7 linked regions of the Homo sapiens genome follow. The protein of the gene in region 4 purifies or fractionates together with the protein of the main gene of each other region. This does not show direct contact. Each region holds a gene or a part of one and is shown on either strand. Other genes may lie near its edges. The genes, in order: SULF1, CNTNAP3, PCYOX1L, LYZL2, TTC17, MGAT5 and LOXL2.

Region 1 (4,105 bases), on a different chromosome or scaffold from region 4:
GAGTGCAGTGGCACAATCTTGGCTCACTGCAGCCTTGACTTCCTGGGCTGAAGCCATCCTCCCACCTAAGCCTCCCTAGGAGCTGGGATCACAGGCATGTGCAACCATGCCCAGCTAATTTTTGTATTTTTAGTAGAGACAGGGTTTCACAATGTTGCCCAGGCTGGTCTTGAACTCCTGACTTCAAGCAATCTGCCCGCCTCGGCCTCCCAAACTGCTGGGATTACAGGCATGAGCCACTGCAACGGGTCCCAGACTTACATTATTATCTATTAAAATGTTACTGAAATATGTACCCAAAAAGCTATGTATAAGTTGTTTTATGTTTGTATAGCTATAAATACACATTAGCATAATTCTATTTATACTATTAAAATTTCAAAATAAGTCTCTAAGGATAAACGAAACCCATACACCAATAATACTCTAATTCATATTAATCCTCTTTGCCAGATGATGCTGTTTTGCTGAAACTAAAGAATAAATTTGTTTTAACTAAGTATTCATTAATGAAATTGGAAAAAACATTTTAACAAAAGGAATTTCTATTGCATATTAAGAATTACACCTGTTTATAAGGAACTGTTACAAGATGGCACCTATAGAGAAGAAAGGATCCAGGCAATCAGTCCTCTGGGGTGGAGATTTTGGAGCTGAGAACTGTGAGGGCCAAGTCATCCTATCACCCTTCTCTATTCTGGGAAACAAACAAACCTTCATACAACACAGCAGGAAGTATTTGACTCTCACGTGCATACACATATCAGCAGGAACTTAGGCTGCCTCTGTTCTTTCTTCAATAGCCCATAACAATTAAATTATTATATGATTATACCACACATTATTATTATTTATTTTTTTAAAGACATTCTAGCTCTGTTTCCTAGACTGGAGAGCAGTGGTGTGATCATAGTTCACTGCAGCCTCAAACACCTGGGCTCAAGTAATCCTACCGCCTCAGCCTCCCAAGTAGCTGATATTACAGGTGCACACCACCACACCCAGCTAGTTTTTAAATTTTTTGGTTGAGATGAGGGTCCCACTGTGTTGCCCAGGCTGGTCTTGAACTCCTGGCCTCAAGCAATCCTCCCATCTCAGCCTCCCAAAGTGCTGGGATTATAGGCATGAGCCACCTCACCTGGCCTACACATTATCATTTTAATGATGAGAAATCAAAGTCTACATTTATAAAATTTAAGAAAATTCTGGTCTCATTTCATGAAAATGTCTTTTGATTGCAAATATGCAAGGAAGGTTGTATCTTTATTACTGGTCTAAAAAAAATCAGTCCAAGTAATAATGATTGCCGATGTTTATTGAACCCTTATTTTGTGCTAGGTCGTCTTGCAAGTTTTTCACATGAATGTTTTCATGTAATCCTCACATCAACCCTATGGGGTAGATACCATTTTAAATTCCCATTTGTCAGAGGAGAATACTGAGGCATAGAGAAATTAAGTAATGTGCTCAAGGCCACATAGCCAGTGAATGCCATAGCCTGGTATTCCGGCATCTCATTCCAGACTCAGCTGCCCGGTAGCATATTCAGAACAGTCTCAGAAAAGGTATTCTTTGACATCAGACTGTGCCAGCCTAACCACAGCCAGATACTTTTGACATCACATTCAGATGTAAACTTTCACTGTAGGAGATCATGAGGTGCACATACAATTATAAGCACAAACATGTATATGTCCTCTCAGAACATATTTTACAAGTGGGCATCTGCATGATGCTTCTAATAATTTGTGATATCAGCACCATGGAGACAGGATGGAAAAGTTCTTCTAGAACTCCCCAACCCCCAGGAGGAGAAGCACAGTGAAGCGAGTGATCTAGAGGCCTAATGGGTGAGGTGGGCCACATTGCAGAGGGTGGCATAAAACTAGCGGCGGCGGAGTTTCACTGCTGTTTGGAGTGGAAAGAGGGGTGATGAGAGTCGTGTGGGAGGAAAGTGAATCCTGCAGCACCAGGCCAGCTCCAAGGAGGCACTGCTGCAGCAATCTTGTGGTAGGAGTGATCCATCCAGAGCAAAGCAAAGGACCTGGGGCTTAACCTGACTCGCCAAGGCCAGCTCAGGATAAAAAGAGATTCCAGGCCTATGGAGGGAAAAAATCTGCACCCATTACCTCTGAGATCCCCCCATATGTATACGAAGGTACAACTGTAGTCACCAGTGGAAAAGTATGAAGACTTTAAATGAAATGCTTTATTAAACATTAATATTTACATGGGCATGATCAATATTTTTTAAATGTGAAGGAAATTCTGAGTTGTTAAATAAGAGGTCTCATTTCCTTATTCTATCTTATATTATGTTCTCTTTTATATCATATGCACATTTACATACAGTATGTATATGTCAGATGTTCATGGCAGCAAGATTGCTTCATTTGATACTTAAAACATTAAAATGGGAATTTCCTCATATTCAAAGTGTTCAAATTTATTTTAATCACTTACATTTTTCAGCTGTCAAAAATGTGGAATATAAACAAATTTTACCACTTGGAAATGCTTACTTTGCTAGTCATCAAATAATAGCTTGCTGCAACTTTAAAAGATTCCATGATTCAGCGCGTTTTCCTTTAAAATAGGTCTCCCAACCTGAAATTAGACAGCACTCAACCTTTAAACTTGGAACACTTTGTAAACTTTTAAAAGGAAACTCTTCTTTAATGGTTCTATGAAATCCAGTCAAAGAATGATATGAAATGAATCTAATGGAAAGTCTTTTCCTTGTTGGAGAAGCAGTCAAAATAGAAACTTCTACAAAAGGACCGAATCACCCACAATGCTTCAAAGACTCTTGCGAGTGATTGTAAGAAAATCGGTCTGGATGAAATTTAGAGAATATTGTTCCTAATGATCACCCCCTTTGAGGCTGTGAAAGGGCAACATCTGAAAGATGAGAGGAATTGCTGATAAAACGTAACTGATGGCAATTTTGCTCTTTTCCATCGTAGGTGCTGACGGCCACCCACCATCATCTAAAGAAGATAAACTTGGCAAATGACATGCAGGTTCTTCAAGGCAGAATAATTGCAGAAAATCTTCAAAGGTATTCATCAAATTTTTATCTCTAGCTTAAACCAAGGACCACCTGGGCACTCTATGTCACTTGAAGAGGGGAACATTTCACGGTTGGGGAATTGTTAAGAACTGGCAGAAACTGAAAAGTCAATGGTCCTCTACCTTCCCATCACATTCTCATTCTTGTTGACTGAGAGAGCTAAAAGGGGCCTTCCACGTGGTAGAGCCATGTCACGAAATCAGTCCTAAGAAATGTCAGAAGAACCATCTGAAAAATGGGAATCTAAACAATCATATGACTATTGACATATTATGAGCTGCTCAGGAAGGAAGCTCAGGGGAATTAGGGGGCAGTGTGGTAGGCCCGCCATGCACAGCCATCCACAACATACTCCACAGTGTCAGGAGTGAAAGCTGTACAGATATCTGATTTATTCACAGCTCGTCTTCACAGTTTCTTTCCTTGGCCAGATAAACATTAGTGCCAAGAGCTTTCATGGAGCCAGGGAGAGTTGTGGCAACCCATCTCAGCAATTTCACCTTGGTGGCAAAAACATTTCTAGGGTTTGGGTTCATATGAGGGTACAACCTCATGAGGCTTTTTCAAATGTCAACTTTGAGAGTTGCTCCCTTTCACCCCTAAAAACTAATGCAATGAAAATGTTCAGTTCCTCTCTATTTCATTAGTCACTCTTCAGAATCATTGCTATTTGCTTGATTTTTTTTTTCTTTTCTTTTTCTTTTTTTTTCTTTTTTTTTTTTTTTGAGAGGAAGTCTTGCTCTGTTACGCAGGCTGGAGTGTAGTGGTGTGATCTTGGCTCACTGCAACCTCCGCCTCCTGGGTTCAAGCAATTCTCCTGCCTCAGCCTCCCGATTAGCTGGGATTACAGGCGCCTGCCACCACGCCCAGCTAATTTTTGTATTTTAGCAGAGATGGGGTTTCACCATGTTGGCCAGGCTGGTCTTGAACTCCTGACCTCAAGTGATCCACCTACCTCAGCCTCCTAAATGGCCGGGATTATAGGCGTGAGCCACCACAACCAGCCTGCTTGATTTTTATTCTAAGCCTTCC
Region 2 (4,754 bases), on a different chromosome or scaffold from region 4:
GCCTCCCGGGTTCAAGCAATTCTCCTGCCTCAGCCTCCCGAGTAGCTGGGACTACAGGCAGGCACCACCACGCCCGGTTAATTTTTTGTATTTTAATAGAGACAGGGTTTCACCGTGTTGGCCAGGATGGGCTCCATCTCCTGACCTCTTGGCCTCCTCCGCCTCCCAAAGTGCTGAGATTACAGGCATGAGCCACTGCACCCGGCCAAGTTCACATTTTTAAAGACTCCATCTGATGCCTGACAAATTGGTATAATAATAGATTGACATTTGTTGTTTTACTCTAGGTCCAATTTAGAAAATGATTTCCATTTTCTCTCTTTCTGTCTCACTGAAGGCAACTGATCTGTCAATCAAAACTTTAGATTTATAATTTTTTCTGTAATAAAAGACGTGCTATTTACAGAGTTCTTGTGCAAAAGTAGTTTAAGTGAACCCAATTAATAATTCAAGAATGACTTTGTAAGATTCTTCATCTATTACATTTGAATTCATTTTACATTTTACATCTATTACATTTGAATTCATTTTAATGAAAAAGCCTTTCAAAGTTGTCTTTCTAAAGGGAAGATTAATACACTATTTCTTAGAGATACCATCTAAAAAAGTATCTTTCTTTCTTTTTTCTTTTTTGGAAACTCGCGGTGGTGGTAATGTGAGTGAGTTTGTCAATCTTTGCCCCTACTGTGAATTTGAGAAGCAGAGGAAGAGAAAAAGAGAAAGACCCCCCCCCCCGCCCCCTGCCTCCGCCCCTCCCTCTAGCACACAGTAGGCGCGCAAGGAGTGCAGTGTTAGCTGCTGCTGGACTGAGCTCCTCATCCTACACTTGCAGGGGTTGCTCTTTTGGACAGAAAGCTGGAATAAAACGTAAATTTTAGACTTCCACCAAGGCCAGGACTAGGGTGAAGGGACTAACGCACTAGTCTCAGGAGCAACTGTTAAGTAACGCTAATCCTGAATGAATGAAATAGTTTTAAAATTGAATGTAATCGCAAAGAAAAAAAAACCCATGATAGACAAAATATTAAAACTTTAAATAAAGGCTTGCACTCGCACAACCCAGGCTCACCGGCCTCTCCCTGCTCCTGGCCCGGTTTCCCAGCTTGGTTCTCTACAAGTCAGAATTCCTAGCAAAATCAAAGTGTGCGCGCGTCTGCCCAAGTACACGCCGCAGAGTTATTTCTGCCCCATCTTCCCTATTTGAACTCAAACAGGACAGCATTTTCCTGGGTGCAGCCCCTGCGTTGGGTGAACAGCGCAGTGATAAAGCCTGGCGTTCTCCACCTGCAGGCGGAGGCTGACGGCGCGGTCTTTGGCGCGAGTCCGTGCACCGCGGCCGCCCCGCCCCGGTGGGAGAGAGGGACGGAGGAAGCTGCCGGTATAACGGGAGGAGAGCGCCAGGCGGAGCTGGGGCGTCCCTCCCGCTCGCTTCTTGACTCGCGTTGCTGCCGGCCGCCTCCCGCGCCTAGTGTCCGGGACGCGCCTGAACCTGCCGCCTCCGTGCCTGGGGTGGCGCCGCGCGGCCCCGAGCGCTCCAGAAAGCTGCGGCGCGAGTCCGCGGGGCCGACCTCGGAGACGCAGCTGGGGCCGGGCGCGGCTTGGCGGGAGGGTCTGCAGCGCCGAGGGAGGCTGCTGGTGCGTGAGGAAGAGAGCTAGAGACTGGACAGGGGAGGCAGAGCAGCGTCAGAGCCGCGCAGGGGACGGGAGTGAGAGCAGGAGCGACGCAGAGCGGCCGTCGCCGTGCCCGGGTCTCAGGGCGCCTGGCTGAAGTGAGCATGGCTTCAGTGGCCTGGGCCGTCCTCAAGGTGCTGCTGCTTCTCCCCACTCAGACTTGGAGCCCCGTGGGAGCAGGAAATCCACGTAAGTACAGCAAATGGTTTAAAACTTGCGCTAGGCTGTCTGGAAAACTTTGTTTTTTTTTTTTTATTATCGGTAATATTTGGAAGTGGAATTGCAGAACATGCTCCTGAACATGAAGAACCTTAAAAAAAATTTGGAATTGCAACCCGAAAAAGACGATTTTGTTTACAATAGACTTTCCTCTTGTGGGGGAGTCTAAGATATACCATGCATGTTTTGACTTTTTAATCGATGTACTTGAATATTCATTGAGAAAGTGGACGTTTCTGTAAAACCTGAAAAGCATCTTAATAAGAGATTAGCGTGCAAATGCTGTCATTTATTCCTTTTTAGGATTGTAATATTTTGTAGGAATTAAGTCTAACAGGGAAAAAACTGGCAGACATTACATCATACTGCATCAACTTAGATGTTAGCAGCTTACAGTTTTGCCGACCTTGGCAGCTTCAGAGTTAAAATGCTAATTAACTTCCATGCAGTATAGGGACAGAGCGCCTGTAGGTGAAACTAAATTAATAACCTGTCCTAACTACTAAGGGAATAACACTTGAACACCCCTGTCAGGGGCTTCGTTTCTCATAGTAGAAAGTTCTTGCTTAAAGACAAAACTCAGCCAGTCATTTAGGTGATCTTGAAAATGATTCCTCTCTGGATGCTAATATTTTACATTATTTAATTTGCCATCAGGTTCCCTGTTTTTTATTTTCCTTAATTTGGTAAACACCTAGGAAGCCTTTATTTCTAGAATGGGCTATGATTCTAATGTAATGATGATATTCCAGACAGATGAGCAAAACATAATGTACCCATATTTTATCACACATAAAAATGTTTACACAACATTGCACATTTTTTTTTTGGCTTGGAGTAAATCTCTAGCAGAGAGTTGTCTTTCTTTCTTGATTAATCAAACCATGAGATTAGAATTTTTAAAATGTCTTCCTCTTCCTTCTCAAATCACTTTTATTTTTCTTTCAGTGGCATCTCCCCGCTGTCAGCCTCAGCCCTCTCCTACCAAAATCTCTTTCGAAATAAGTTCCAATAAACGCCAGTGGCCATGTTTGGAAATTTAGATTATTGCAGGATAACCAAGGGTAGCTTTCAGCAGTTCTCCTAAGCTGTCATGAAAAGTTTGCCGTAGCTCAGTGCTGTTCTGCCCGCGGGCTCAAGGGTGGGTTGGTTCTTCACACACAGGGCACGCACATGGGTTCATGAACTCACTGTGCATCATGATTCAGTTGCGCCTCAGTTAATCCTACACTTGGTGTGCCCTTCCAAAAAACAAGCTCCGGATTCCTTTGGTCAGATGCTGTACCGTGTTTCAGATTCAACTTTAATCTGCTTTTGTGAGAAGGCTTTGTGAATAAAACGTTGTTACTTAAATCAAAATCCTTGGGTCTTGTAATGGAAACTGCCGTTTGGCTTAAACAAACATATAAATGAGCTACTTATAGAAAGGCATGCTAGAGTAATTGACCAATCAACTGGCAAAATACAACAACAAAAAAAGTCACTAGAGGTCACTCTTACTATTGAATAAACAGGGCTTCAAAAAGACCTTCCTGGAGAAAAGCAAAGCAATGAAATCTGAGTGAGACCCTGCCACCACCTTTCCTGTTTTTGTTGCATAGTTGTGATTACTTTTTATTCTCAGGATTAGTTGTATTGGTAGTTATTTTGCTTGGAATCCAGTGGAAGGATTACAAAGCCCATAGAAATTAAGCTCTTCTCGTTTATAGTGAACATTCTTTTTGGAGGAGGGGAGGGCAGGGACAGATATTCCAAATGGACTCAGCACCAGACGGGACTCTCGCGAGTTGCTGAGTGACACGTGAAATTTCAATACTACTACTGTGGGTGTTTTCAGTCTTCTTTCGTTGATGAAACTTAGTATCCTCATATCTAATAAATTTTACTAATTTTAAATTACCTTTTAGATCAAGTAATTCTTCCAGATAAAACTATGTAACTGTAATAATTATACCACCTTCAATACCAAGAAGAAAGTCAATAAGGACATCTAAAAGTTTCCTTCTCATGTAGACACCATGAGTTGCTCACGTTATTCACAGCTGGTTTTCGAGAAGCACATTGGCCACCCACGAAGGCAACCTGTTGATGATGGCATGAAATGGCTCTTCATGGGAAGAGCTCTATAGGCCGGGCACAGTGGCTCGCGTCTGTAATCCCAGCACTTTGGGAGGCCGAGGTGGGTGGATCACCTGAGGTCAGGAGTTGGAGACCAGCTTGGCCACCATGGTGAAACCCTGTCTCTACTAAAAATACAAAAATTAGCCGGGCGTGGTGGCAGGCATCTGTAATCCCAGCTTCTCGGGAGGCTGAGGCAGGAGAATCGCTTGAACCTGGGAGATGGAGGTTGCAGTGAGCCGAGATCCCACCATAGCACTCCAGCCTGGGCAACAAGAGGAAAACACAAAACTCTGTCTCAAAAAAAAAAAGCTTTCTAAACATTTGGCATTTTGGGGATTATGTGCAGTTTATCTGAATGTTATTTGACCCGACAAATACATGGGAAAGCTTTGTTAGGAAGATTCTGCATGAAGGGAAATATTTTCCTAACTTCAGTGCCCATAGACTTGCAGTGAGTGAAAGGTCACTTACTGCTCTCATTGAGTCCCTGAAAACAGCAGGAAGCATCAAGAGAAAGATTGAACGCTGGGCACTGATCCCAGGGATACACAAACAAATGGCTGGGCAGATTTTGCAGAAATTCCTGTAACTGGTAAAATGCTGAGTAATAGCCTTTGATGTAACTTTTCAGTGGGTTAATTTATTCATTACTTAGCCTAAAACACTTTTAATTTTAATTGCCTCAATTTTTTCCCCTAAATGGTTATGTTTTGCAAGTTCGCCAGCCAGCCTGGGGAAAGAAG
Region 3 (4,841 bases), on a different chromosome or scaffold from region 4:
CCTCACCTGACACTAATCATTAAACAGTCCTGTGAGAGAACTATAAACCAGCTATGAAGCTACTGAACTGGACTACCACCCTACCTATAATTTTTGCTCACCATGTATCTGAAACACCACTCTCTTCTCATCAGACAGTCCAGAGGCCTTACCCCAAAAGAAAATTAAATAAATCTGGTGTAATTTGTCCTTACTGGACCCATTTGGACCCACAGAGTACCAGTTCCTGCCAGAAGTCACAGGCAATCCTCAGACAGCACCAGGTTCTCTATGATCTGGCCTCTGCTTACTTATTCCATTTCCTGCTTTACCCTCCCAAGATGCCACCTTCTTGTCTGTCTAGGCTTCTCTTATTGTGGGCACATAGCTTTGTTCTCTCATGCCTGGGCCTTTGTCCGAGCTGTTCCCTTTGATAGGAGTGCCATCACCCTGTGTCTCACTGGCTTCAACAGCCCTCAGATGTCACCTATAACTTGGCTTGACTGACCCACCTGAGGTGAGTCAGGTGTTCCTCCTGCATATTCCCACAGCACACTCTGCTTAGCCGTACTGTAGTCAAGTTATTTAAGGACAGAGAGAGAGTGCATGATCACTATGTCCCCAGATCCTGGTGGACAGTAGAGTTCATGAAGTATTTTTTCTGTGTTGAAAGAATAAACCACTTCCTCTCACAGTACTTACAAAGCCACTTCCAAGACAGCTTTGGATTTTATTTTAACCAGTGTGCTCCCATCCCCTCCATGTGCAAAGAGTCCCAAATTACCCATTTTTCCAGAGAAATTGATATTAAGGCCTAGAAGCTGCCCAAGATCAGGAAGCAGAAGACACCACTTCATTGTGAACCAGCTCATTTAACACAACTGACACCAATTCTCTAATTTACAGTAAGATGTCCTGGGGCACAAAGAAAAATCAAACAGGCTTCTGTCCCCCAGGACCCCAGCATGGAATGGGCAGACAGACTCCTGCGCAATTAGCAACGACAACCCATGATGAAGTGCAACAGGGTTCCAGGGAGTCCTGAAGGGGAAGCAGTGAATTCTGCCCCAGAGGGTGTGGGGACACAGCCTTCTTGGGGAAATAAGATTTCATGCAAGATGCTGGAGGACAATCAGCTTTGTCAGTGAGAGGACACGCACACTCTGCAAAGAGACCAGCATGAGAAGGGCAGCATATGGAACTATATGGGTGGGTTTAGAGGGTCCTGATGCCACTTGGGGGTTCTCAGATTTGGTCCTGCAGAAGCACAAGCATTAAGCCATCCTAACAGGAATCCGCATTCTTGTTGTGGGTAGAGTCCAAACCACCAAGGATGAACAGAGGCTCCCGTCAGAGGGCTGAGGAAAATCTAGAAAGCTGAAGGGCAGTGAGGCATTGCCAAGTGTCCTGCTCTGGATGACTCTTGGATGGGGCCAGAAGGGCCAGCTGGGAGGAAGGAGGCAGAGAGCTCCATGTTGCCACAATGCAGCAATTCTGCTGGGTGGAGGTCCTGCTCCTTCCCCAATGGTGAGAAATGTCCTGTCCTGTTGCCTGTTCCTAAGAAAACGGGGAGTGCCCTGCATATTCCCACAGCACACTCTGCTTACTCCTAGCCACACTGTATTCAAACGATCTAAGGACAGAGAGAGAACACATGGTCACTCATGGATACTGCCTGCCTAACTCTTCCACATCCTTCAATGCCTGGCTCAAACTCCACCTTCTCCATGAGGGCTTCTCTGGCTACTCTAGCCTCAGGATTCTCTTTTCTTGGCAAGCACTAAACTCTCAGTCTCAAACTGGTTTCTGGCATGCTTCAGTCTTCTTAACCCTGTATGGCCTGGGCTGTGGTTCTGCTACACAAGAAGCTTTAGCACTGCACTGGACCCTGTAAGTTTGTGATGCTTCTATCAGATGTTCCAGGCACTCCTGCCAACTGGGGTGCATGGAGAGTGGCCTAGCGGAATAGAGTCTTTGTCCTCCCACCCCGAAGCCCAGGATCTCTGCCTGTGGGAATATCACGTGTGAGGGACTTGAAAATCTTCACGAGTCATGTAGTTAAAATGACAGTTGTTGAGGGAGGAAAAAAAAAAGCAACTGTAAACACATATGACACTCTAGTCAATGATATGCACGATGACGTATTTAGTGAGGTGTCCTGATGTCTGCAATTTATTTGGAGATGCATCAAAATGTAGGCTGGATTCGTGGATGTCTAGAACAGTGCGTGATAGTTATGTGACACAGCAAGTATAGCAGCAGTTAATGGCAGAATGTAGGTGGTGGGTATACAGATGACCACTATAAAATTCTTGCTGTACATCTGAACATTTTCAAAATAAAGTATTGGGGAAACCACACACACAATAAACAAAAAGACTGTTGTTAAAAGTTCCCCGTTCTGTCAGCAAATCTCCAGCGGACCTAGTGTTCTGTCTCTGCCAGGACTGTCTCCTATCGACCTGGGGGTGGTTTGGCTTAGATGTTACTTCCAGGAAGCCCTCCCAGGGCCGCAAAGACAGGGTGAAGCGCCCCTCCTCTGCATGCACCGTACTTCCTCAGCTCAGCACGGACTTCCCTGTACTGTGAGGGCTCTACCCCAGCAGGAACTACAGCACCACGTCTGCTACACAGAGAGCCCTCAACCAACCTCTGTGAATGCCATCGCCCAGCCTCTCTGTCCTCTGTCACCCGGGCGCCTAGCCAACAGCCAGGACCATGGCAGATGCTCAGCGACCCTGGACCTCCCGGTGAGATCCGCGGCCAGTCCTGCCCAGGCCTCTTTTCCGTCCTAGGTGGCCCTCTTCACATGCCATGCCCCGGCCCCATCAGGACCTTCCCTGCCGCGTCCCCTTCGGCGCCTCTCCTCCACCCAGCTCCTTTTCCGAGGACCCCTCCCTCACCCAGCCGCCCTCCTATACCCCACCTAGCTGAGAACTGAGAACCCTTTACCCGCCGGCCCTCCCCAGCTGGGAACCCCACCGCGTCCTTCCCGCACCGATTTTGCCCGGCGGGGCATCTCCGCCAGCAGCGGCGGCGGCGAGGAGCGCGGTCAACGCGGCGAGCAGCGGGGCTGCGCGGGCCATGGCGGGCGGCGAGCGGGCAGCACGCCGGATTCAGGCGCTAGCGGGTTGGCGCTCGGCTCTCCGCCCCGCCCCGGCGCCCCACTGGCAGTCCCGCCTTCCTGCCGCGCCAGACCCAGCTCCGCATTGGCCAAGCCGCCGTCCCTCTCCAGCACGAGGCCCTCATTAGCTCCATCTCTCTCGGGGTAGGCTCTCTCATTGGCAGCTTCCCCGTTCCGCCCCGCCCCCCGCATGCGGGCTCCTCATTGGCTGGGTTCATTCTTGCCCGGCGCAGGTGTGCCCGCTTCGGGTCCTCAGCATCAGGACCAGGGCCCAGCTGCGGCAGAGGGATGAAACAGACCAAAGTGAAGCTTTGAAGACCTCGGTTATGTCCAGCCTCTGCGTTATTAGCTCTGTATCTTCTCTGTGTCTGTTTCCTCTATTATAACACAGACGAAGAATCCTGCTCCACCTTTCTAGGTGGTTGTAACCATCTTATGAGATAAGGGAAGCCTTTTGCAGTGTCTGCAAGTGCTGGAAATTGCTGACCAAGCATGCGGCCAGGGTGGTAAGACGCTACCTCATTCATATGCTGACACAAGCCCTATGCTTTCTATACTGCTGTTATTTATGTGTTTGCAGTTTTTATATAGTTAATATCTCTGCTTTCTGCTTCCTAAAAACCAAAAGGCGGGGGAAGGTTTCATCTACTCTCTTTTCAGAAAGGAGAAAAGGAGGGATAAACTCCCATTTTCATCCTCTAAGAAGACAAGAGCAGCAGCTCAGACTTGCTAGTTTATCACGCTGTGAAAAACAGACTTCCTCTGGCAGAAAATAAAGTTAGGGATGAGTTTCAGAATAAAGAAAATCCGGAGGCTGGGGGTGGCTCAAGCCTGTAATCCCAGCATTTTGGAAGGTCAGGCGGGAGGATCGCTTAGGCCAGCAGTTTGAGACCAGCCTGGGCAACATAATGAGACTCTGAGACCCCGTCTCTTAAAAAAAAAAAATTCGCCAGGAGTGGTGGTGCACACCTGTAGTCCTAGCTATTCAGGAGGCAGAGGTGGGAGGCTTGAGACCGGTAGTTTGAGGTTACAGTGTTCTATGATTGTGCCACTGCACTCCAGCCTGAGTGACAAGAGTCCCTGTCTTTAAAAATAAATAAATATATAAAAATAAATGAAATCCATATTTACTCAGTGAGATTATGGCTAAAATAAGAAACTGGGCCGGGCACAGTGGCTCATGCCTGTAATCCCAGCAGTTTGGGAGGCCGAGGTGGGCAGATCACTTGAGGTCAGGAGTTCGAGACCAGCTCGGCCATCATGGTGAAACCTCATCTCTGCTAAAATGCAAAAATTAGCTGGGCTTGGTGGTGTGCGCCTGTAATCCCAGCTACTCGGGAGGCTGGGGCAGGAGAATCGCTTGAACCTGGGAGGCACATGTTGCAGTGAGCCGAGATTGTACCACTGCACTCCACCGTGGGTGACAGAGCGAGACTCTGACTCAAACAAAAACAAAAACAAAAAACTGAAGTGATTCAGAGAATGGTGAAAGAGCTTATAGCTGGGGTTCTAACTCAGCACTGAGACTTAATTTACTTGGGCCAAACTGGATTACTACTAGTAAACTGGTAGATGAATAATCATGCATTTGTCATAATCTTAAACTTTTTTTTTTGGCAATGTTTGTGTCAGGATGCAACACCTTTTAAGTTCATTTCCAAAGGTTCAAGATACTCCCTTAAACAGTTTTTAAAACAAGCACTCATTGACCACTATGTGCCAAATTCTCTTATGAACT
Region 4 (4,105 bases):
GGTAATAGCTGTTATTATCCTAAATATTTATATCTCAAGAAGATAGGCAAAAGACTTTTTTGTTGTTGTTTGTTTGATTGTTTGTTTTGAGATGGATGTTTGTTTTGAGAGGATGGTCTCCATCTCCTGACCTGGCGATCTGCCCGCCTCAGCCTCCCAAAGTGCTGGGATTATAGGCGTGAGCCACCGCACCAGGCTGGCAAGAGAATTTTATAAGCTGATATAGCTTTAGTTTTCACTGTAGAACTATAAACCAAATGCTAGTGAATCTGCGTATGTTGTTTCAATTGCTATCTCTTATAGACGATGTATTTTGTTACTTTTTCTCCTGGTTAATAGAATTTTGTTTCAAATAAAAATTAAGCCACATTTAGAATAAATTTGCTTAAAAAAAATCTATCACTACGTTTATCTTCTAGTGAAGCCTAACTGAGAAAGCAACAAAATTAGCAACTCAAGGAAATAGCATGCTCAAGGAAAAATTCCACTTTCAACTGAGTTAACAAAATAATTTGGAATTACAATGCCTTATTGAAATGCAACATTTTATGCTAACATTATTTTTGGTTATTTTTCTGGTAATAAAAGTAGTACATTTCAATTGTAAAAAATTTTAGAAAATATACAGTAAAGACATAAAAGCATTGGTGAACCCACAGTTAAGAGCCAATCTTTCTTAAAATACTGGTGAATTAATGACTATCTTTTTTTTTCTAAACCAGTGCTATCTAATAGAACTTTCCATGATGACAAAAATGTCTTCCATCTGTGCTGTCAAACAGAACCACTAGCCATGAGTGGCTATAAAGTATCTGAGATGTAGCTAGAACAAATAAGGAACTAAAGTTTTAATTGTCTTTAATGTTAATTAATTACAATTTTTTATATTTTTCCCAGCTTTATTGAGGTATAACTGACAAATCAAAATTGTATATATTTAAAGTAAATAACATGATAATTTGATATATTTATACATTGGGAAATGATCACTACAATTGAGTTTAACATTACCTCACATAATTACTGTGTGTGTGTGACAGAGTGTGTGTATGAGAGACAGAGAGAGAGAGAGAGAGAGAAGAACACTTAAGATCCACTATCAGCAAATTTCAAGTAAGCAGTACAGTATAATTAACTATGGTCACAATAGCTTACCTTAGACCCCCAGACCTTCCTCACCTTATAACTGAAAGTTTGGACCCTTCCATCAGCATCTCCCCATTTTCCTAACCAGCCACCGCTCTACTCTCTGCTTTTATGAGTTCAACTTTTGTAGATTTTGCATATGCGTGAAATCATGTGGTATTTGTCTTTCTGGGTCTCACTTCCTTCACTTAGCATGACGTCCTTCCGTTCTTCCATGTTGTTGCAAATGTCAGCATTTCCTTCTTTTCCATGACTGAATAATATTCCACTCTCTATATAAACATATTTTTATCCATTCACCTGTCAACAAATATAATTTTAATTTAAATTATCACATGTTGCTAATGCCTGCCATATTGGCATTAGCCAATACAGCTCTCAATGGATATTTTTATGATATTGGGAACTTAACATTGCATTGGGAGCATTTCTCCATATTATTAAATATCCTGGGAAAACATAATTCAAACAGCTCTTTATTTTATTAAATGAAGGTATTATGACTAATTTGAATATCACTGATTATGAGGCAATTAGATTTTTTCATTTTAACTCTTGTAAATAATGCTATAGTAAACCACTTTGTAAAGAAATATTTGTCTAGTGTCATGACTATTTCCTTAGGATAGATCTGGAGAGAGAAATTATTAGGTGAAAGGATAAAAACCTCGTTAAGGCTCTAAACACATGCTGCTATGTTGGTTTCCTGAGACATTGAATCCATTATACTCCCACCAGCAAGTATCCAGAGAACCTGCCTCTCTGTGCCCTTGTCAACATCCAGCATTACCCAATTCTCTTAAAAAAAAAATCTTTGCATAATTGACAAGCAGTAATGAGATCAAGTGGTTTGAGTATTTTTGTCCTTGATTGGTGGTTGTGGTGGTCATGGAGATGGGCCTCCCAGATCCCCTGCTAAGGGAAGACATGCTGCCCCCGCTGCAGTTGTGTGATGAGCAGACAGTACCTGCCACCTGCTTCAGGATTGGCTTCAGGTGCAGGTTGCTCCCTTCCGGGGTGACCCACACCCATTGACGTGTGAGGCAGAGGCATTCAGACCTGGCATGTGGGCCTGACTTGGGCCACTCTGATGGGCAGTGCTCACTCGGGAGCTCATGGCTGGGCTGCCCAATGAATTGCTGGGTCTGCGTCACAAATGGACATCTCCGTCTGCCCATCCTGCTTCCCCCCAGCCGATTCCTTTCATAGGTGTGGATTGCTGAAAATATCTGGCATTTCAAACCCATCTCAGCATCAGCTCCTGGAGGACTCAACTTGCAGTAGAAGTAATGTTGAACTTGTTTTGTTTATTTGCCTTTTTCTGTCATGTTTGTGTTGAGGATTTTGAGGCCGCTTCTAAGCAAGCAGGAAAGAATGTGGATATCAACTAATACATTTCAATTCAAAGATTTGTTATGTCTGAAGCAATAGAAAAAATAATAGGTGGCGGGGCATGGTGGCTCATGTCTGTAATCCCAGCACTTTGGGAGGCCAAAGCCAGAGGATTGCTTGAGCCCAGGAGTTCCAGACCAGCCTGGTGAAACCCTGTCTCTACAAAAATAAAAATAAAAAATGGTCAGGCGTGGTGGTGCATACCTGTATTTCCAGCTATTTTGAAGGCTGAGGTGGAAGTATTGCTTGAGGCCAGGAGGTTGAGGCTGCAGTGAGCTATTATCATGCCACTGCACTCCAGCCTGGGTGACAGAGTGAGATTCTGTCTCAAAAAGGAAACAGAAAAGGAAAAGTAATAAAGACAAAGACTGGTGTATTTGATTTAAAAGGTAAAACTTTCTGCACATGAAAAACACCCTGGATAAAATTTTTTTAAGACACAAACTGAAAAATGACAATAGACAAAATTTAATATTTACCTGTAAAGAAACCTTACACGTCAAACTAACCCAAATACAGAAAACACTATACTATCCTGTCTTATGTGCCTTTTTTTTTTTTTTCTTAAGACAGAGTCTCACTCTGTTGCCCAGGCTGGAGTACAGTGATGTAAACACAACTCATTTCAGCTTTGACCTCCTGGGCTCAAGTGATTCTCCCACCTCAGACTCCCAAGTAGCTGAGACCACAGGTGTGTGCCATCACACTAGGCTATTTTTTTTACATTTTGTAGAGATGAGGTCTTGCTATGTTGCCCAGACTGGACTCAAACTCCTGGCCTCAAGTGATTCTCCTACCTTGGCCTCCCAAAGTACTGGGATTGCAGGTCAGCCACCACGCCCGGCCTGTGCCTATTTCTGTAGGACATAAGGAACATTTTCACATAGCGTCTTCTCTAAACACATTTCCAAAAACCCTTCAGGATTGGGCTCTTCCTCTGAAATGTCAGGTAGTGCAAGATGAAGATGGTCTTAAAACAAAAGCAAAGTTCTTTTCATTATGAAGAAGCTCAACAGAAATGAGATTGTGGCTTTGCAGGGAAAATTATAGTTCTTCCAACCTTCCCATCCCAAAAAGACTGAGAAAAATGAAGTAAACTTGAGTTGGGGTCCCTCTCCAACAACAAAGTCTCGCCTAACCCTGATGACCTCTCTTTTTACAGCCTTGGTCACTGATGACCTCACAGATGCGATTATCTGTGCCAAGAAAATTGTTAAAGAGACACAAGGAATGAACTATTGGTAAGAGTCTTTCCTTGGAAGACTTGGGCTGTCATGGGCAAAACCTAGTGTGTGTATTTATCACAGTTATGGTGGAATTGACAAACTCACCTCCGCAGAGTGGTCCAACCAATGGAAGGAGACCTTGTCTATATTCTCCTCCATCAGTGTGTGGGTGTGCAGTGAACATAGTAGTACATAGAAAGGGAGCAGAGACATGGGAGTGAGTTAAGATAATTTGCAATTGCTTTTCATATGAACATATTCCAAACAATGGAGAAAGGTATTTTCTAAAGTGACTTGGAAAGGGTCAATTGAGTCAATTCACCAGAGGGAAAAAAAAGCTT
Region 5 (4,105 bases), on a different chromosome or scaffold from region 4:
AAGGAGAAACAAGTTGGGCTAGCTTCAGATTTCTCTGCAGCAGCATTCCACAGCAAGAGGCAATAGAGAAATGCTGACACATTATTTGAGGAAAGAATAAGCTGTGGTTTTAAATCCAACCAAGCTGTCTTTTAGCTCTGAAAGCACCAGACAGAAGTTTTTCAACATATATGAGTGTATTAGTTTGCTAGGGCCACTAGAACAAAATGCCACAGACAGGGTGGCTTAAACAGCAGAAATTTATTTTATCACTGGTCTGGGGGCTGGAAGCCTGAGATCAAAGTGCTGGCAGGGTTGGTCTCCCCTGAGACCTCTCTCTTCGGCTTGCAGTTGGCCTCTTGCTGCCTCTTCACATGGTTGTCCCTCTGTGCACACAGGACCCTGGTGTGTCTGTCCTTCTTCTAGCTCCTTCATATAAATCCAGTCATTTAGAGTTAGGGCCCCACTCTAATAGCCTTATTTTAACTTAATCATTGCTTTAAAGACCTCCACATACAGTTACATTCTGAGGTACAGGGGATTGGGACTTAAAAATATGAATTTTGGGGGAACATAGTTCAACCCATAGCAGTGATCTCAAAGAATATTGTTCCCATGAGCCGTTCTTGAGGAAACTATTAGAAGATGAGCTTTAGCCAACCAGGAGATGATTGGGAAAACCACACAAAAGTAATGTCAGTGACCACTGATTATATTCAGCTGTAAAACCAATACTAAAAGGTGAGGCATAGAGTGATAGGTCAGAATGTAAATACTATACGCCCTGAAAATGTAGAATTATAAAATTAACAAAAATGTTATTGAAAACACAAATCAGACAAGCAGTTAAGTTTTCTGAGTGCCTCTTCTGTAATGGCTGGGAGTCAGAGATCATCAACCAAAAGTTGCAAATGAAATAGATTTTAAAAATCCAAAGTTAGACCTAAATTCAAAATTCAACCTAAATTAAATACTGTATTTATATATAGTATAATATATATATTACTTTATATATAGTAAAGGTAGTATCTCAGTGGGGAGAGAGGTGAATTATTAATTAAATTTTGAGACAAATTAGTAGCTATCTGGAGAAAAATTAAGTTGGAGCCATATCTTTTACTTTACAGCAGATTAAATTTCAAATGGATCAAATATTTAAATGTAAAAAATGAAATTATAAAAATTCTGTAGGGGAAATGGTGAAATATTTATTTCTTTTGCTTTTTAAGAGACAGGGTCTCACTCTGTCTCCTGCAGGCTGAAGTGCACTAAGTGGTGTGATCATAGCTCACTGCAACCTCAAACTCCTGGGCTCAAGCGATCCTCCTGCCTCAGCCTCCTAAGTAGTTGAGACTACAGGTGCACACCATCATGCCCAGCTGTATTTTTTATTTTTTGTAGAGACAGGATCTTGCTGTGTTGCCCAGGCTGATCTCCTCTTGCCTTGGCCTCCCAATGCACTAAAATTACAGCCGTGAGCCACCAAGCCTGGCCCAGTAAAATTTCTTTATATCCTTGGAATGAGGTAGGGCTTCCTAACTACAACTGAAAATCCAGAAGTCATTGAAGATCACTAAAAAACCAAATTCTGTAGCAATCAAAATCTACATCACACAAAGTACCATAAGTCCAAAGACAGACTTCAAACTCGGGAAGCTTATCTGTAAATCATAGGCAAGGATGATCTCCCTAAAATATAAAGAACTTTTTACCAACAGACAAGACAAAAACCTCACAGAACAATTAACAAAATATGAATGCAAATAGTTTACAGAAAAGACGTTCAAAAGGCTAACAAATATGGAAGAATGGTCAACTCTACTCATAAGAAAGGAAATGCAGATTAAAACCACATTTCTCACCCATCAGATTGTCAGGGGCCTAAGAGTTTAGTAACAAACTCTGTGATGGGGCTATAAGGAAATGGTGATACTTAGATATTTCTGGCAGGAGATTAAATTGTTATAATCCGGGTGGGCATGGTGGCTTATGCCTGTAATCCCAGCACTTTGGGAGGCCGAAGTGTGCAGATCACCTGAGGTCATGAGTTCGAGACCAGCCTGGCCAACATGGTGAAACTCTATCTCTACTAAAAATACAAAAATTAGACAGGCGTGGTGGTGCACTCCTCTAATCCCAGCTACTCGGGAGGCTGAGACAGAAGAATCGCTTGAACCTGGGAGATGAAGGTTGCAGTGAGCTGAGATCATTCCACTGCACTCCAGCCTGGGCGACAGCGAGACTCTGTCTCAAAAAAAAAAGGACAAAGGAAAGGAGGGGGGAGGGGGGAGGTGAGGGGAGGAAATTCTAGAAGGAAACGTAAAAAATTAAAAATAATGTTTACTTGTCTACCATAGAGACGAGGATGGGAGAGAGACTTCATGGTATAACTTTGTATACTTCCTGGTTTTTGAAACGTGTGACTGTGTTACCTATTCAGAAAGTTAAATAAAATAGAACATAGATATGAGATATAGTTCTGCTATTCAGTAGTTGAGTGAACTTGGGCAAGACACTTAAGCTCTCTGAGTCATAGTTTTCTCATTTATAGAAGGGCTGTAATAGTAGTATCAAGCTCACAGGATTGTTCTAAGGATTAATGAAGGACAGGTGGAACAGAAAGTGCTGAGCAGAGTGCCAGCACTTAGTAAATACTCAGTTGAATGGTCATGACTTGTGTTACTGAACTTAATCTTGGTAATAAATGAGTATGTTCTTGAAAGGACACCAGCCTTGGCTAACATTCCTTTGCAGAACCAGACGTCCTGGGTCCTCTCCAGCATGGCAGCCCTCTACTGGAGGGTGAAAGGCCAAGGAAAGAAGGCAATCGACTGCCTCCGCCAGGCTCTGCACTATGCGCCACACCAGATGAAGGTGAGTGGGACTCAGAAGGTGGGAACTTCTGCCCCTTTGTCCTTTCCATTCCCCATGGTTTATTCTGCCCTTTGAACCAGCCTCCCTCATGCTCAGCCAGTGAGGACATATTCCAAGGAGAGAATGGGGCAGGAGACCTTCTGACTGGGCTTGTGCCCCAGCAAGCCTATGAACTATCCCTGCTGCCTTCCCAGCTTCAGCAGGTTGGAACGTGGGGAAGGCCTTCCAGATCACTGTAAGACAGTACTGCATTTAGTCCCCTTTCTGCTGTGTTCAGAGCCACCCAACATACAGCAAATGCACTGGCCTAAGTGGGCTGACACATAGAAGTCAATCTGAATTTAGCTTGTCATCAGGGGCCTGGTGACCTCTTAGACTTGTTTTGCTTATCCTCTTGGCTTGAGCTTGCTTCCAAGCACAGAGATAGAAGCAAATTTCCATTTATTCATGTACATTGGCCAGTTCCTGGTCCTTGTCTGACTTCTACTTTTTCCACAAAAAAAAAAAAAAAAAAAAAAAAAAAACCGGCTAACCCTGTGTGACACCAGACTTTTCCAGAAGACCGGTTATTGTTATGATGGATGAGAAAATACAGTGTTTTATCAGCACATTTGTATTCATGTGTTCTGAGTTCTGCATTAATCCAGATCTTATGCTTTTTAAAGACATGGCTGGTGTCTTCTTTGTTCGTCAAGGCAATGTATGGAATGATGGAAGGAACACAGGATTTATTGTCAGGCATTGCTGAGTTTTAAACACAGCTCTACCTCTTACTAGCTTTGTGAATTTGGGCACCTTATTGAACTTCAATGAGCTCATCTAGAGTCATGCATTCTATGGCTGTCACAAAGATGGGTCCTTTCTGTTTCTTCTGTGTCTGCTACAGAACCCAATATGGCATGATACAGGTAACAGTTGCTCAAGTTAGACATTTAAAGGGAATGATATTTGTGATGATAGCAATCTTGCTACTTGTTCCATCCATCATTTTGTACTCTATACTGTTAGGCAATAGGGAAGGGCTGAGGCTCTACCTCTGGGAGTCAGCAAACTTCCCGAAAAGGGCAAGAGAATAAAACACTTGGACTCTGGAGGCCAGACAGCCTCTGGTGCACCTACTTAATTCTAGCATTGTAGTATGAAAACAGCCACAGAAATACGTAGAGGACTGGGAATGATTGTGTCCTAATAAAACTTTTTTCAAAATAGGCAGGAGACTAGGTTTGGCCTATGGGCCAAAGTTTGCCAACCC
Region 6 (4,068 bases), on a different chromosome or scaffold from region 4:
AACAGGCTGTTGGGGGAGTGAGGATGATGTAGGGAAGGTGGGGCATGGTTTAATAACCCCTGGGCCATGCCTAGATGATCAGTCCTCTGCCACATAGCTGGCTGACCTTTGCCAAGTTAATCACCTTTTACCTTTATTTTCTCATGTTTCTAATAAAACAGAGACGATAATATTCATACTTCTTACCATATAGAACTTCTGAGGATTCAGTGAGCAAAGCCACAAAAGATGGTATGTCACAATATCTGGGATATAGCTAGAATTTATAATTTATTTTTACTCTGTTGATAGGCAATGGGAAAACAGTAAGAGGCAGACCAACAGTGATCCAGGGCTCTGAAAGCTAATTGCTTCAAGATCCTGCTACCATTTTCTTTTGGGCCGCTTGCAAAGAAGAATCCTTTGACTGAAGCATGTATGTACACTCTGAAGTACAGCCTGGGTTAGTCTCTTATAAGGGATCGGATCATTGCTCAGCCTCTCCCTTGAGTGGCACTTAGAAAATGGCGCTATTCGTAAGCTGACTGGTATTGGGCCCAGGACTCTGGCTGAAGGGGTGGGCATGCTGGTAACCATTTGCAACCTATGCTCAGGTCCTACTTGTTGGGAAGCCCTGATTGAGAAGAGTGGCCTGGTCTGTGCTGGCATTAGATAGGATCTGGCTGCATTAATATTGAAACTACTCTGCCTTTTAATGTCTCATTTTGCCTCATGGTGGGAGTGAAAGTGAGAACCACAGAAAATCTGCCTGCCAGGTGTTCCACATTTCTTGTGCTACAGCATGCAAGTGAGCAGTGAGGTGTACCTTTTCCTCATGTAGCTGGGAAAGCAATACCCCTGCTTGTACCTCTGGCATATCTTCTCTGTGCTGGTGCACCTAGAGAGGTTGCCTGGTGGCCCTGAGAGAGCCATCTCATCACTAAACACTGATGGTGAAAGCTGGCCATGCTCAAATAAGATGTAGCAATCTACCTCTTCTTTGTCTAGTTACCCCCAAGGGGGCATCCACTTTCTTGCTCACCTCACCAGTTGCATGTTCTAGTCCTTGCCAGAAGCACATAATAATGACTTTGTAAGCTTAAGTTACAGGCACACAAAAGGGCCTGATGGTGATATGACTCCACCCTCCCCGTTTTTGCTGACATTCCGCCAAATATCCTTCTGTCTCCTCCCCACCTTGCAAAACAAACTTCCTGTTTTGAATTTGGTCCAGGCTGGAACAGCCCCACTACACCTGTTAACACACGCAGACGCACACTTCCCCCTTCATAATTGCTTAGCTTCTTGTTGCCTAGCCAGATTTCCCCTCAGCTTACAGTTCCTGAATCATAAGATATTGAACCAGCAAATTTAAGAGTTGACATTTTACTTAGAGGTATTCAAGTGAAAACATGGCTTCTGGTTTATTTTGCTGTATTGTGCCATGACCACTTGGCTAATTCTTCTCCTCCTTCACAGCAGAATGGAAGTGAGGAAAGGCAACCAGCTGACACAGGAGCCAGAGTGAGACCAGCAGACTCTCACACTCAACCTACACCATGAATTTGTGTCTATCTTCTACGCGTTAAGAGCCAAGGACAGGTGAAGTTGCCAGAGAGCAATGGCTCTCTTCACTCCGTGGAAGTTGTCCTCTCAGAAGCTGGGCTTTTTCCTGGTGACTTTTGGCTTCATTTGGGGTATGATGCTTCTGCACTTTACCATCCAGCAGCGAACTCAGCCTGAAAGCAGCTCCATGCTGCGCGAGCAGATCCTGGACCTCAGCAAAAGGTACATCAAGGCACTGGCAGAAGAAAACAGGAATGTGGTGGATGGGCCATACGCTGGAGTCATGACAGCTTATGGTAAGCACTGTTTCTGGGACCTCTCCATTAAAGTGTGCCTTGGCCTTGAAATGGCCCTAGAAGCTCCCAGATATGGTCTTGTCATGGACTGAATGTCCTTTGCCACTGCCTTCATAAGCAGTGAATTGCACACAGAGAGGCATCTTTAGGAAATTAAAGCAATGCCATTTTGGGGGTTCTGAGCTGGTGTATGCAGACACACTTTCCCCTGGAGTCAGTGGGTTAGTATAGTTAGGGCTCTATTGGTTGTGTTTGCAGCTAGCTCCTTCTCCCTGAACACATTTCAGGAACCATGTGATCTCATGTGGGAGTGAGTTCAGGGAATGCTGAAAAATATTCTCATCTTTCCCTAAACAAAACTTAATTAAGGCTGGTGGGGGTGAGGTGAAGAGGATGGGGAGGAATGTTCTATGGAAGCCAGTAAACTTAGAGCCAATTGTGTTCCTCCCTCCAGCCAATAAATATGACACTGGCACTTGCATGCTGGTGAGTTTTAACCTTTGGCTTCTTGAGGTTATGTTGCTCTTCTTCTTGCCCTTGTCTCTAACTGCCCTCACTTTGAAAGGAATCTTTGTGTACTTGTTGCTTTTTCTTTAAAGAATTTTTTTCAGAATTCTTTTTGAAATCAGAAAGAGTAAAAAAATACACATATGGGATGTAACTTATTTTTCTTTTATGTTTAATATAGAAAAAGTTGGAAGCTGTAGACAAGCAAAAAAAGAAAAAAATTACACATAAGTCTACTACTCCAGGCAATAACCACAATTAACATTTCAGTGTGTATTTTTCTGATACTTTGCATACACACACAAATATATATATACATATATATACATATATACATATATATACACATATATACACATATATATATACACACACATATATATATACATACACATACACACACAAATACTTGGAAAAAAATTGCAAATGGAATTTAGATCATGCTGTGTTTTGCAGAGCAGACTTGGTCTGTAGAAGATGACCTGTTGTTGAGTGACAAGAGTCTGATCATTGAATTGAGGTTTCAGTGGTCTCACTGAAGTGGTCTCCCTGATAGTATAGATGAGATGCAAGAATGGGGTTAGGTGAGGTGGAGAAAGTGGAGTTGTGTTTTGTGACCCACTCAAGGAAGGTGCCCTGAAGTATGCCGATTTCAAATCGTGATTCCCAAAAATGTGCAGCAACAGTTCAGTTCAGTGCAGGTTGAGTTCAGACACAGGAAATCATACTCAGTTATACATGTGCTTCTTTCTTTCCAAAAGGGGAAAAAAACTTGTTTTTAAAAAAGTATGTAAAATTTTATACACACGTATGTGTATGTGTGTGTGTGTATGTGTATATATTAGAAGATGCTTACTTCTGAGGAACATTTTAGAAATTCTTTTCTAGTTCTTACTATGTAAATAATCACACTCTGCATTTAATCTGTTAAAAGTGTCTGTAGGCATTGGCTTTTAATATATCTAAAAAAATGGTACCTTTTTTGAACTGATGGATTTAAAAAATGAGATTCCACTGTGGGAGCTTACACTGAAAAGTAACTAGGTAGTTTTTCCTAGAGTTGCATTTTAAAATTGCTCATTGACTCACATTTGTGTAACATTTCCAGAGTAGTTTAGATAAACCAACAGAAAATAAAGCTGATTGTCACCATTAGTGTTACCAATGTATATGACACAGCAGGTAACACAGGTGCAGTTTTAAAGTTTCTGGTTGTATGCATTTCATGTTACAGCTTTGAAGGGAAAGAGTTACAGCTCAGTGGTAATTTTCTCTTGTTTCTCTCAGTCTGTCAAACCTTTTCCATGGGCAAGAAGAAGCCCCACAAATAGCAAATTTATAGGCTTTAAATTTCTGCAGTTGTTTTGGCTGTTTGTATTTCTTGTGTATTGATGAAAATCTCATAGGGAAGGCTTCCCCACATTTTAAAGGACAATAATTTGGTCTTAGCTTTTCAGCCTCACAGAAATATTATTTTTTAAGTTACAAAAAAATCCCAGAATAGGCTGTTAGAATTTCAGCCACCTTATATGCCTGTAATCATAAGACTTTGCATCTCAAAGAAACTATAGAAATTATTTATTCCAACTTACTTTCGTAGATGAACCTTAGCAAAATAATTTGTCTTTTTCTCAAAAACAACAAAGAAACAATCAAACAGGTCACATCAGCAACTCTAACTGACACTGCTAGTTTTCTCTTTCATCGAATCAACTTTAAC
Region 7 (3,967 bases), on a different chromosome or scaffold from region 4:
TAGGAAGGACATATTCTGGGAGAGTGTCTGTGAGGGAACAGAAAAGGGGAGGTTTACGGTGAGGACCCGAGGAGAAAAGAGAAAGGGAGGGAGAGGGAGAAGAGACAACAGTGGTGAACAGAGGGGCAGAGGACACAGATGACAGGCCTTCCCTCGAGGGTCCTGCCACATTTGGAAGGGCTGCGACCCACAGCAGGGGGGCGGGTACAGGCTGCTCGTTCAGGAACATTCTCTAAATTTGGGGCCCCAGAAGGGCCTGGACACGAACCTTTAGCAGGCCGCTGGGCTTGCCCAAAGAGGTGCTGTGGGAAGCCAAGGCCAGCCTGGCAGCCGGCCCTCTGCTCTGGCCCAGCGGGGCTGTTCTGGGGGCCTGCACCTGGCTCAGCTGTGTCCCGCTGGGGCCCTGTGCCTTTAGCTAAGGAGGTACATGCCCTGCTCCGGGGCGGCTTGAGTTTTTTCTTTTCCACCCAACCATTCTAGCTGCCCCCTCGTTCCTGGCCCACACATGGCATGGGGCAAACACAGCTCCACATGCCAAGGCCTCCAGCTGTGCAGGCCTAGGCAGCTCCTTGGCCGCCCAGGCGTCTCGACAGTGCAGCCGTGAGGGCGGCTGGATGCAGCAAGGGCTCGTGTTGGGGACACGAGGGCCAGTGTTACGTGTGGGGTGGAGGCGGGGCTGGAAATGTGTGTCCCCCACTGTTTCACCCCACTCATCTACTGCAGACCGACATCTCACGAGGGCCTGCGGGAAGTGGCTTTAGGTTTCTGTATGTCTGTGAATCTAGGAAATGATGAGAAAGCGGATAAAGCGGGGCCACCAGGAGCCAGGAGGCCCCTTCACCCCTGCCTCTGAGCTCTGCACAGGTCCCTCTGCGTGGACGGTCACTTCCTCCTCGCCCAGCTCCCTCCTCCTGTCCTTCACAGCACCACTGATGTCTGAAGTGAAGACCACCTCTTGTGTCCCGTGAGTCCCCAGGCCGGTGCTTGTGGCACCTAAAGAAGCTCCATGTCTATCTTAAGGGGAATGTTCTTTTTGATTAATCAGAGGTATTAACATGCCCCTAATGAGTCCATTTGCTAATTGTATTGTTTAGGGGTTGAGAAAACAAAATAAAGAGTTGATATGTCTGGGGTTGGGTGGCCGTGAAATGAGGGTAATGATGATGCCCCTTCCTTGGGAGATTAAATCAAACAATGCATTCCCCAGGCTTAGGCAATTGATAGTAGTTATTAAGTGGATGGCACTGGCCAGAATACAGGGAGATACACACTCACCCAGCAAAATGATAGCAAACCTCAAACAGAAACCACCAGGCACTGTATACGTGCACATGGCCACGGCTATTCATCTTTTAAAATAAATAACTCTCTGGTTAGGCCTCTCCAAGTCTGTGGTTCTGGGCTTGTGGGTGGAAAAGTGCTTGGCTGTCTGCTTTCCAGCCTCTGAAACTGCCCAGGAATTCTCTGAAAGCCCCTCTGTGGTGACTTCTCTGAAGGTGTTGTTTCTTCAGAGGACTGTCTGTAGGTGGGGACCGTGGGCCAGGCCCTGGGCTGGCTGAATGCCCCCTCAGGAAAGCTTTCAAGGTGGAATGACACATTTCTGGTCATCCACTTTGCTAGCCAACAGGGCAAGCTGGAAAACGAGATGGGTGAGGACGTAGGAGAGAGTGAGAGGGTGAGATAAAGCTTCTGCAGGCTACGTGTACCCGTGCACTGGGAGAGACACTAGGGACACAATGCCCCTTTTCTCCCCCAGTTAGAGCCCTGGCCAGAACATGCCGCTGTTTTCAGGAAGGAGGGAAGCCAAGGCCCCCTTGTTCCTCCTCAGGGCTGGCCTTCCACCCAGAGTATGTGGAAACAAATCTCGGCAACCCCTCTGACAAAGAAGTCACCTGGCCAGGCTGTGTCTCGTGTTCAGTATTTTATTCTTATAGATTCACTTTGCATTGAGAATGGCCCCTTCTGCAGATCCTCCTCTATGAGGCAGATATTTCCGGAAGAGCTAAGTCACAGATATTTGCAAGTGACTGGCTCTTTATGAGTTTGCTTTCAGTCTTGAAAGCACAGACCAAGGCAGCCTAGGGCACTAGGAGAAATGGGGATGGTGGAGACAAGAGCTCCATAGGAGACAAGAGGTGTGGGTTGCCTGAGCATGTATGGAATAAACTGGCCGGAGGAGCAAATCTAGCCTGCTGATGAGTTTTGATTTGCATGCACCAGGTGTTAACTCAATCAAATGTGAATGCCTGTGGTGTCTCTGGTCCTGTGCACGCCCTATTTCTCAGGCCCCCATGCCTGATATCTTTGGGTTAACTGATGGACCGTGATGGCCTCTGGGGGTAGCACCTTGCCCTTTAGACAGCCTGACTTCCATGCCCCTGTGTGGACACCAATGGGAAGGAGCCTGTGGAGGTGGCCTCCCCTCCTCCCCCTGCAGGGCTGGAACCCCTTCCCACCCACCTCACCTGGAACAGGTAGTCTCCAGGGGGCACGTCAGTGATGTCAACCCACTGGCAGTCGATGTCATGGCGGTACATGTCCCAGCAGCCCATGGTGATGCCCTGATCGCCGAAGTTGGCACACTCGTAATTCTTCTGGATGTCTGCGGGCAGGGTAGAGGAGAGCTCATCACCAGGGAACCATGGCCCCACTGCCGCACCCTCTTCCTGCTTCCAAGGCCCCTACCGCTGCTTCATCTGGGCTCGGCATCCCACCCCACTGTGTGGGCTGCTCATCTGTTCTCATTTCAGTAGAACCCCCCACTCAATTCCCTACCCACATCCTGCCTCTTCTCTCAGGCCAGGCTCAAGTTCCCCTTCCTCCATGAAGCCCTCCCTGACCACTCTGATCCACCCTGGCCTTTCTGTGACATCCTCAGCCTGGGGATAACTGCGTGTGTGTGGACCGAGGAAATCTCTGGTGCCTGTGGTTTAGCAAAACGTGGGGGGTCATACTGTCTGTCTCCTCTGGAGGATCGGCAATTAGAGTGTAGGCCCATGTCTCTCTGACACTTACATGTTATCTGCACATGGTAAGAGGTCAACACCTGTCTGCTGTGTGATTTCACGGCAAGTCAGTGGCGGGCCGCTTCAATGAATAACAAATTAAACACGCATTTACTGAGAAGCTGCCATGCCTGGACACTGCTGTAAACAGTGGGTCTAGCAAGAAGAACTGACATGTCTCCCCATGAAGAGCCCCCAGGGCTGCAGGTGCACTAACAGGTGATCACAGGGCAGGTGTGGTGACCTACCAGAAGTGTGAGCAGAGTGCCACACCTGCCGGGACGGGGGGGCGCTTCAGAGGAGGGCATTTGAGATATAATTGAAGGGTGACACCTGGTGTGGTAGGGACACTTGGCATTGGGACACCAGAAAAAAGGTTGGTGGCAGCCAGAGTGGGAGGGGCATACGCATCAGGGTCTAGGCTGCTAAGCCCAGATGGAGCAGGGTCCCCAGAGTCTGGATCTTGTCCAGGAGGCCCTGTGGACCGACCAGTGCCTGTCAGCACAGCTCTGGGGAATCCGGGTGCCCTTGGAACCAGGTCATGCCCATGCCCCCAGCGCCTCACTATAGCTGAGGAAGGTCCAGGTGGGGAAAGGTGGCAGTGGTCAGAGTGACACAGGGTCAGTGCCAGGCCTGGGCTCCAGCCAGGTGATCGTGGAGGCAGAGGCATTCGAGTCCCTCTGAGGCCTCCCATCCCCCCACTCCGCTCAGATACCTCCTTCACATTCTGTGTCCTCCAAGCAGAAGCTGGCCTTGTGGCCCTCTGCCACCTTGGTGCCATTGAGGTTCAGCAGGTCATAGTGGGTGAACACCTCCATGCTGTGGTAGTGCCTGGAGCGAGAGAGAGATGGCCTGGAGGTCAGTTTCTGGAGCAACTGCTGCTTGCAAGCAGAGGCCTGGCTGGCGATTTGCCTCTGGGAATACTTCCAGGGGACCAGAGGGGGCCGGGTGGGGAGAGGAGT

Evidence for each region.
Region 1: the proteins of LYZL2 (region 4) and SULF1 purify together in Homo sapiens (affinity purification with mass spectrometry; 2 studies listed by BioGRID and IntAct, with this or other methods). This does not show direct contact.
Region 2: the proteins of LYZL2 (region 4) and CNTNAP3 purify together in Homo sapiens (affinity purification with mass spectrometry; 2 studies listed by BioGRID and IntAct, with this or other methods). This does not show direct contact.
Region 3: the proteins of LYZL2 (region 4) and PCYOX1L purify together in Homo sapiens (affinity purification with mass spectrometry; 2 studies listed by BioGRID and IntAct, with this or other methods). This does not show direct contact.
Region 5: the proteins of LYZL2 (region 4) and TTC17 purify together in Homo sapiens (affinity purification with mass spectrometry; 2 studies listed by BioGRID and IntAct, with this or other methods). This does not show direct contact.
Region 6: the proteins of LYZL2 (region 4) and MGAT5 purify together in Homo sapiens (affinity purification with mass spectrometry; 2 studies listed by BioGRID and IntAct, with this or other methods). This does not show direct contact.
Region 7: the proteins of LYZL2 (region 4) and LOXL2 purify together in Homo sapiens (affinity purification with mass spectrometry; 2 studies listed by BioGRID and IntAct, with this or other methods). This does not show direct contact.

What each region holds. Positions count from the first base shown.
Region 1 is NC_000008.11:69,498,908-69,503,012, forward strand, and holds part of SULF1 (extracellular sulfatase Sulf-1 isoform 1 precursor), read left to right. Parts: intron 1-2,966; 5' UTR 2,967-3,061; intron 3,062-4,105. UniProt on the Homo sapiens protein: Exhibits arylsulfatase activity and highly specific endoglucosamine-6-sulfatase activity. It can remove sulfate from the C-6 position of glucosamine within specific subregions of intact heparin.
Region 2 is NC_000009.12:39,285,086-39,289,839, reverse strand, and holds the start of CNTNAP3 (contactin-associated protein-like 3 isoform 1 precursor), read left to right. Parts: upstream 1-1,672; 5' UTR 1,673-1,775; coding exon 1,776-1,860; intron 1,861-4,754.
Region 3 is NC_000005.10:149,356,293-149,361,133, reverse strand, and holds the start of PCYOX1L (prenylcysteine oxidase 1-like isoform 1 precursor), read right to left. Parts: upstream 3,089-4,841; 5' UTR 3,066-3,088; coding exon 2,978-3,065; coding exon of another isoform or gene 2,962-2,977; intron 1-2,961. UniProt on the Homo sapiens protein: Likely to have oxidoreductase activity. Required in the mevalonate pathway to regulate prenylation and enhances the bactericidal activity of neutrophils.
Region 4 is NC_000010.11:30,612,496-30,616,600, reverse strand, and holds part of LYZL2 (lysozyme-like protein 2 precursor), read left to right. Parts: intron 1-1,179; exon of another isoform or gene 1,180-1,354; intron 1,355-3,700; coding exon 3,701-3,779; intron 3,780-4,105.
Region 5 is NC_000011.10:43,487,506-43,491,610, forward strand, and holds part of TTC17 (tetratricopeptide repeat protein 17 isoform 1 precursor), read left to right. Parts: intron 1-2,733; coding exon 2,734-2,853; intron 2,854-4,105. UniProt on the Homo sapiens protein: Plays a role in primary ciliogenesis by modulating actin polymerization.
Region 6 is NC_000002.12:134,252,804-134,256,871, forward strand, and holds the start of MGAT5 (alpha-1,6-mannosylglycoprotein 6-beta-N-acetylglucosaminyltransferase A), read left to right. Parts: upstream 1-1,268; 5' UTR 1,269-1,600; coding exon 1,601-1,841; intron 1,842-4,068. UniProt on the Homo sapiens protein: Catalyzes the addition of N-acetylglucosamine (GlcNAc) in beta 1-6 linkage to the alpha-linked mannose of biantennary N-linked oligosaccharides.
Region 7 is NC_000008.11:23,299,562-23,303,528, forward strand, and holds part of LOXL2 (lysyl oxidase homolog 2 precursor), read right to left. Parts: intron 3,837-3,967; coding exon 3,721-3,836; intron 2,603-3,720; coding exon 2,466-2,602; intron 1-2,465. UniProt on the Homo sapiens protein: Mediates the post-translational oxidative deamination of lysine residues on target proteins leading to the formation of deaminated lysine (allysine).